Regions from separate parts of the Homo sapiens genome. Here region 2 is linked to region 1. The links come from fine-mapping of genetic effects on gene expression. Tissue or cell type: whole blood. Region 1 holds a variant in brackets; the other region holds the start of a gene. All regions are shown on one strand. Distances are from middle to middle.

The links. PIP is the estimated chance that this variant, and not a neighbour inherited with it, causes the effect.
Region 2: it holds the start of NT5C3A, and the variant in region 1 is fine-mapped to the expression of NT5C3A in whole blood (INTERVAL, PIP above 0.99).

The regions. Positions count from the first base shown.
Region 1 is chr7:33,013,113-33,015,761 of GRCh38, forward strand. NT5C3A (5'-nucleotidase, cytosolic IIIA) reads right to left here. Exons shown (of 9, transcript NM_001002010.5): 8 at 2,558-2,649; 9 at 1,018-1,719. The coding sequence ends at 1,618. Among named protein-coding and RNA genes, the nearest start is that of NT5C3A, 48 kb to the right of the region's middle. The variant CTT/C (reference allele first, on the strand shown) is at 1,390.
Region 2 is chr7:33,061,460-33,064,142 of GRCh38, forward strand. It overlaps NT5C3A (5'-nucleotidase, cytosolic IIIA), which reads right to left and starts at 1,317. Exons shown (of 9, transcript NM_001002010.5): 1 at 1,109-1,317. The coding sequence starts at 1,246. It overlaps LOC124901610 (a long non-coding RNA gene), which reads left to right and starts at 1,726. Exons shown (of 4, transcript XR_007060279.1): 1 at 1,726-2,189; 2 at 2,570-2,683. RefSeq lists silencers at 952-1,011, 1,312-1,431 and an enhancer at 1,672-1,831.

The DNA of each region.
Region 1 (2,649 bases):
GCCACTGCACCTGGCCTCATTATTTTTATGCTTTTTTGAGATAAGTTCTTGCTCTGTTGACCAGCCTGGAGTGCAGTGGTGCAATCACAGCTCACTGCAGCCTCAACCTCCCCAGGCTCAGGTGATTCTCCCACCTCAGCCTCCTGTGTAGCTGGGACTACAGGTGCATCACCATGCCTGGCTAATTTTTTGTAGAGACTGGGGTCTCCCTATGTTGCCCAGGCTGATCTCAAACATCTAGGCTCAAGCGATCCACTCGCCTTGGCCTCCCAAAGTGCTGGGATTACAGGTGTGAGCCTCCGTGCCTGGCCTGCTTCATTGCTTATGATGATGAAAAGGAGTGGTGGGGGAGGATAAGGATGGGCATTCCCAGGACAAAAAGGTTTCCTAACATGTGACCTTGCCTTCCAGCCACATCTGACTGAACTAGAGACTGCTGCTCACACTGGATGGCCAGAATGAATCAGATCATGCTTTGTGTGTATCATAGCTCAGGTGCTTATATAAGCAAACCAATTAGGTGTTCATAGGATCTGGAATTAAGGGTAAGAATCACGGTCAAATTGATCACAATGGCAGGTCTAAATCCTGAAGATGAATGATGAGGCAGAGCCAGAGATGTGGAGTGGGTAGCTGGACTGTACAGAGAGATGCTGGCTCCTAATGTCGCAGTGCTGCTCAGATTCAGTCACCACGAGACCCAGCTCCACTGCTTCCTGTCTCGGCTTCTGAAACTTGCAGACTTGTACCTTTTACTGATGTTTTAAATGGGAGAAAATAATTTTCAGAGGTCTCAGTATTTTCTGAAGGGCAGACAAAATTTTCCCTGAAATATCTTTAGACTTAAATAATTTCTGAAAATATTCAATCTAAATAGCCACTATGACAAGGACTTTAGAATTTATATATCACAAAAGACAGGCAGACGGAGAGAAAGAAACAAGAAGAAAACAAAAAACCATGGTAGGTGCTCAATAAATATTTGTTGACTCAGTAAAGATAGTTTTGACCATAGAATTAAAAAGGTTTTGCATTTCATATTTATTATCAGTGCTTCAATATAGAATGTTTTGTAATGATTAGCAACATTGTAAACACCACCAGGTTTTTCCAACACTAACTGCTAGTCTTTTCCAGTAAATATTTTTTCCCCAGACAAAATAACCAAACCTAACACAATTTCAAGAGATGGTGATACCATCAGCATAATAACCCAAATTACAAAAATGGCAATACTTAAAATCATGCATATTATTTCACCATTTCATAAAACTTATTTTAAAATTTCTACAAACTTTCCCAGTGTAAAAGACTCCTCAAAAGCTGCATGATAACATTAAACTACAAAATTCACTTTGGAAAAGTAGGGAGTTATTTTTCTAATTTTAG[CTT/C]TTTTTTTTTTTTAAATGGGTTAAAAGATACGGTGAGGAGTGTGTTGAGAGAGGTGGAGAAAAGGAGCTTCCAGTCAATGCATTCACCATATCTGAAAATACTTCAGTTATACAAAGGGAACACTTCGAGAGTAAGGATATATTATAAATAAGTCTCTCAGCAAGATGAACGGATGAACAGTTCAATTGCACCCACAGGAGAGAGGTCTTCTTGGAGAATGCTTGTTTATAGAATCTTCTGTAAAATAGAGTTGGCTACTTCTAATGATTCATCTTGTACTAAAACAATATCATAAGAGTCCATGTACTTTTCTAAAAGCTCATCCACCTAATCAAGAGATGAACAAAAGAAAATTAACATGCAGGGCAAAGAAACAAATAATTTCAGTATGAATCTCGTTGTTAGATCTCTTGGGCAAAATGCAATAAATTAAATTCACTTTCAAAAAATCTTTGAAATGAAGAAATATTTTCAAATCCTTAAGACCCACTGACAGACATTTTTCCACATGGTAGCTTTTCTCCCCAAAATGCTCTCTCTCCAGTCCAGTGGCTTTCAAATGGGGTGATTTTTGTCCACGGAACATTTAGTAACGTCTAGGGACATTTTTGAGTCTCATGGCAGGAGACTGCTATCCAGCATCTAGTGGGCAGAAGACACAGAGGCCTCCTACAGAATACACATCCTCCCTTTTCCCAGTACCTATAGCATGCATCTCAGCTCCTTTTTAAACATCACCAGTATAAAGAACAATCAAAATGCATGATCACAATATGTTTTGGCTGGGCATAGTGGCTCACGCCTGTTATCCCAAGCACTTTGAGAGGCCTGGAGAATCACTTGAGCCCAGGAGTTTGAGACCAGCTTGGGCAACACAGGGAGAATTCATCTCTAAAAAAAATTTAAAAATCAGCCAGGTGTAGTGGTGTGCGCCTGTAGTTCCAGCTACCTGAGGGGCTGAGGTGGGAGCATTGCTTGAGCCGGGAAGGTCGAGGCTGCAGTGAGATGTGATTGCATCACTACACTCTAGCCTCGGTAACAGAGGCTTGTCTCAAAAAAAAAAGTCTCTAAAATAACTACTTTCTCAGGTGACTATGGCAACAATTGCCTATCAAGTTTCATCCTAATATTTTCTTCGAAAAAAATTACAGATTTGTATACTTACTCTATCATTTAGATATCCAATTTTCAGAATGTGCTCAACATTGGCCACTCCATCTGCCATTCTTAAGTCTCCTTGGGAGTCTCCCAGAAGAA
Region 2 (2,683 bases), 48 kb after region 1:
GTGATTATAACCTTGAACTCCCAGACTCCAGTGATCTTCCTCTCAGCCTCCCAAATAGCTGGGACACTGGCTAATTTTAATTATGCAAATACATCTGTATTCAACCTGGGGTCAGTACAACCAATAGGACAAATCGTGTCTTTCGTCAGTTGGAACATATTGCAGGTGCTCAGAAATTCCAAGTATTACACCCTAAAATGATATTATTTAGTGTAGATTTTAAATTTTTTTCTATCATAAATCATCTGACCCTAGATGTTCACATGTATAGCACACGGTCAGGCGTATACCCAGGATTATGCATTTCAGGAAATACATAAGCGTGCAAGTTTGTGCAAGAATTGTCTTCCTGAGTGGGTTCTAATTAAAATACAAAACGAAACTAAATATCCTCATTTTTGAAACAATTACTTATAATGTATCTCAAAGGGAATTCTTGAGACACCCTCTTCAATAAAAAATTAAATTCGAAAATGTATACAAGAGCTTTGGGAGTTAAGATGAAAACAAAGATATTTCGTGGGAGTTTTGAGACAAGAAGGAATACATTCAAATACAAAATAAACTATCCTGAATTTCTCCTGGATTGCCATTCTTGTAAAATTTTAGATATTGCACATTTTCATAATCTAACTCACGGCAGCCCCAACATAAAACTAGTCCTCTGCGGGAATTGCAACTAGATTAGCGGCAACGGTTTGACGCGGATCCGGGGGGAGGGCGGGAGCAAGGCAGGGAGAGAAGGAGCCACCTGCCCAGGACATGCAGCTTATCTCTAGAGAAACGGGTTTTGCAGCACAAAGTAGCCTGTGTCCGATTCATCTATTTTCTGCCTTGTTCCTTCAAACGGAAACCTAACAAAGACCACGGGCAGCCAAGGGCCGCAGCCGGGGACCCAACCCTGGTCACCAAGCCCGCGGAGTGGCCGCACGCGGGGCGGCCGGGTCCCCCAAGCTGCGCGTCCCGAGCTAGCGAGATCCCAGCCTGACAGGCGACGCCGGCAGCTCCCCGTCGCGACCGAACAGCGGCCCAGCACAGGCTGCCGAGGCCAGCGGACGGCCCAGCCGGCCCCTCGCGTGCTCTGGGCGCGCCGAGCCTCCACACTCACCATCTCGATGATCTTGGTCTTCCGCCCCGTCTTCCTCTTCAAGGTGAATATGTACTGAGCCAGCACCACCCCCGCCACCAGGGCGCACACGCTGGCGCTCGCTACCGCGCCCACCCTCGCCACGGCCGCGCGGTCCATGGACGGGGCCCTCATGCGCGTCCAAGCAGGAAAAAAACAGGCAGCTCGCGTAGACTGCGAGTCTCGGAAGCGCGGGATCCCAGAGCATCACGGACGAGCCCGCGACGCCCCGCCCCGCGCAGCGACGCCCCGCCCCGCGCAGCTCCGCCCCCACGAAGCCCCACCCACACGCCATCGATGGGAGAGGCCAGGACGCGGCGGGAGGGGTGTGGCCTGTGCCCGGAGCCCAGGCTGGAGGCGGCCTTCAGCAGACTCAGGGTCTCACGAGCTGCTGTCAGGGCAGGGCAGAGTATTGCGGTAATTATCCTTCTCTGCTAATGAGGATTAGGCCGTGGTTCGCTCGAGCCCCGCCCCAGTAGAAATCTAATTCCAACTGCGGCCCGCTAAGAAGTCGGTCTCCGCCTTCGCGCCTCAGCCCCTCTGGACTCCGACCCCCAGAAGGCTGCGCGGCACGGTGTGACCTGCGCAGTGGCGTCCGTTCTAAGTGCTATAACAACAGGGGGAAGATGGCTCAGAGTTAGGCTGGAGAGGGGCGGTGTCCCTTCCGCCGCAGCCGCGGGGTTTCTGCTACATCCCATTCGCCACCTCCGCCATCCTTTTTTCTGTGTGAGCAGAAGGGCTTGCAGTTGTTCTCTCCTGCCTAGTGTCTTCCAAGGGATAGATGCCATTTCTTCTGCTGGTCTCTGGGGGTGAGGAGGGGCGCAGGGGAGCTTCTTGGGGGAATCGCTCCAACTCTGTGGAGCTGGTGGTGCTGCCTGGTGGGGCTCTCTCTGCCCAGGACGTGGAACAACTTTCAGCCGGAGGACTAGAGGAAATAGTTGTAGGGGAGGAAAAATTGTTTCCTTCTAGCCTTTTAGGTCATTTGGCTGGTCTACAAATTAAATTGATGTAAGACAGAGGAACATGAGAAAAACGATTTGTCGACCGAAAGGTGAAATAACAGGTACTAAAACTTAAAGAAATCATGGTTAGTTTTATTACTCGGCCAAGTTTGAGGACTTAAGCCTGGGAACACAGACTCAGTATAGACCGAGAACGTGTCCCAAAGTAAGTTAGCTGGGAGTATAACCTGAAGAAGACTGAGTTTTAATACCCAGAATATTTGAGTATCAATATCTAGACTACTGTGTCATTTTGTCGCCAAAGTAATTTTTTATGAATCCAGTTTTGCACCAAATACCAATATGACTTAAATGTTGTCTGATTGTGAGGCCTAAGATGGTCACAGTCTCATTTATCTTTCTTCCTCAACAAAAACATTTTCCATATATTACATATTATTTTGAATGGGTAGAGACTAAAGCCACGTTTCTATAATTTCAGGATTTTAAACATTTTGTAGACGATAACATTCGTCTTGAAGCTGTGGACAATCTAAAACAGAAATGGAGTTCCAAATTTTGTTTTTGTAATATGGCCCGTCAACTGCACATGGGA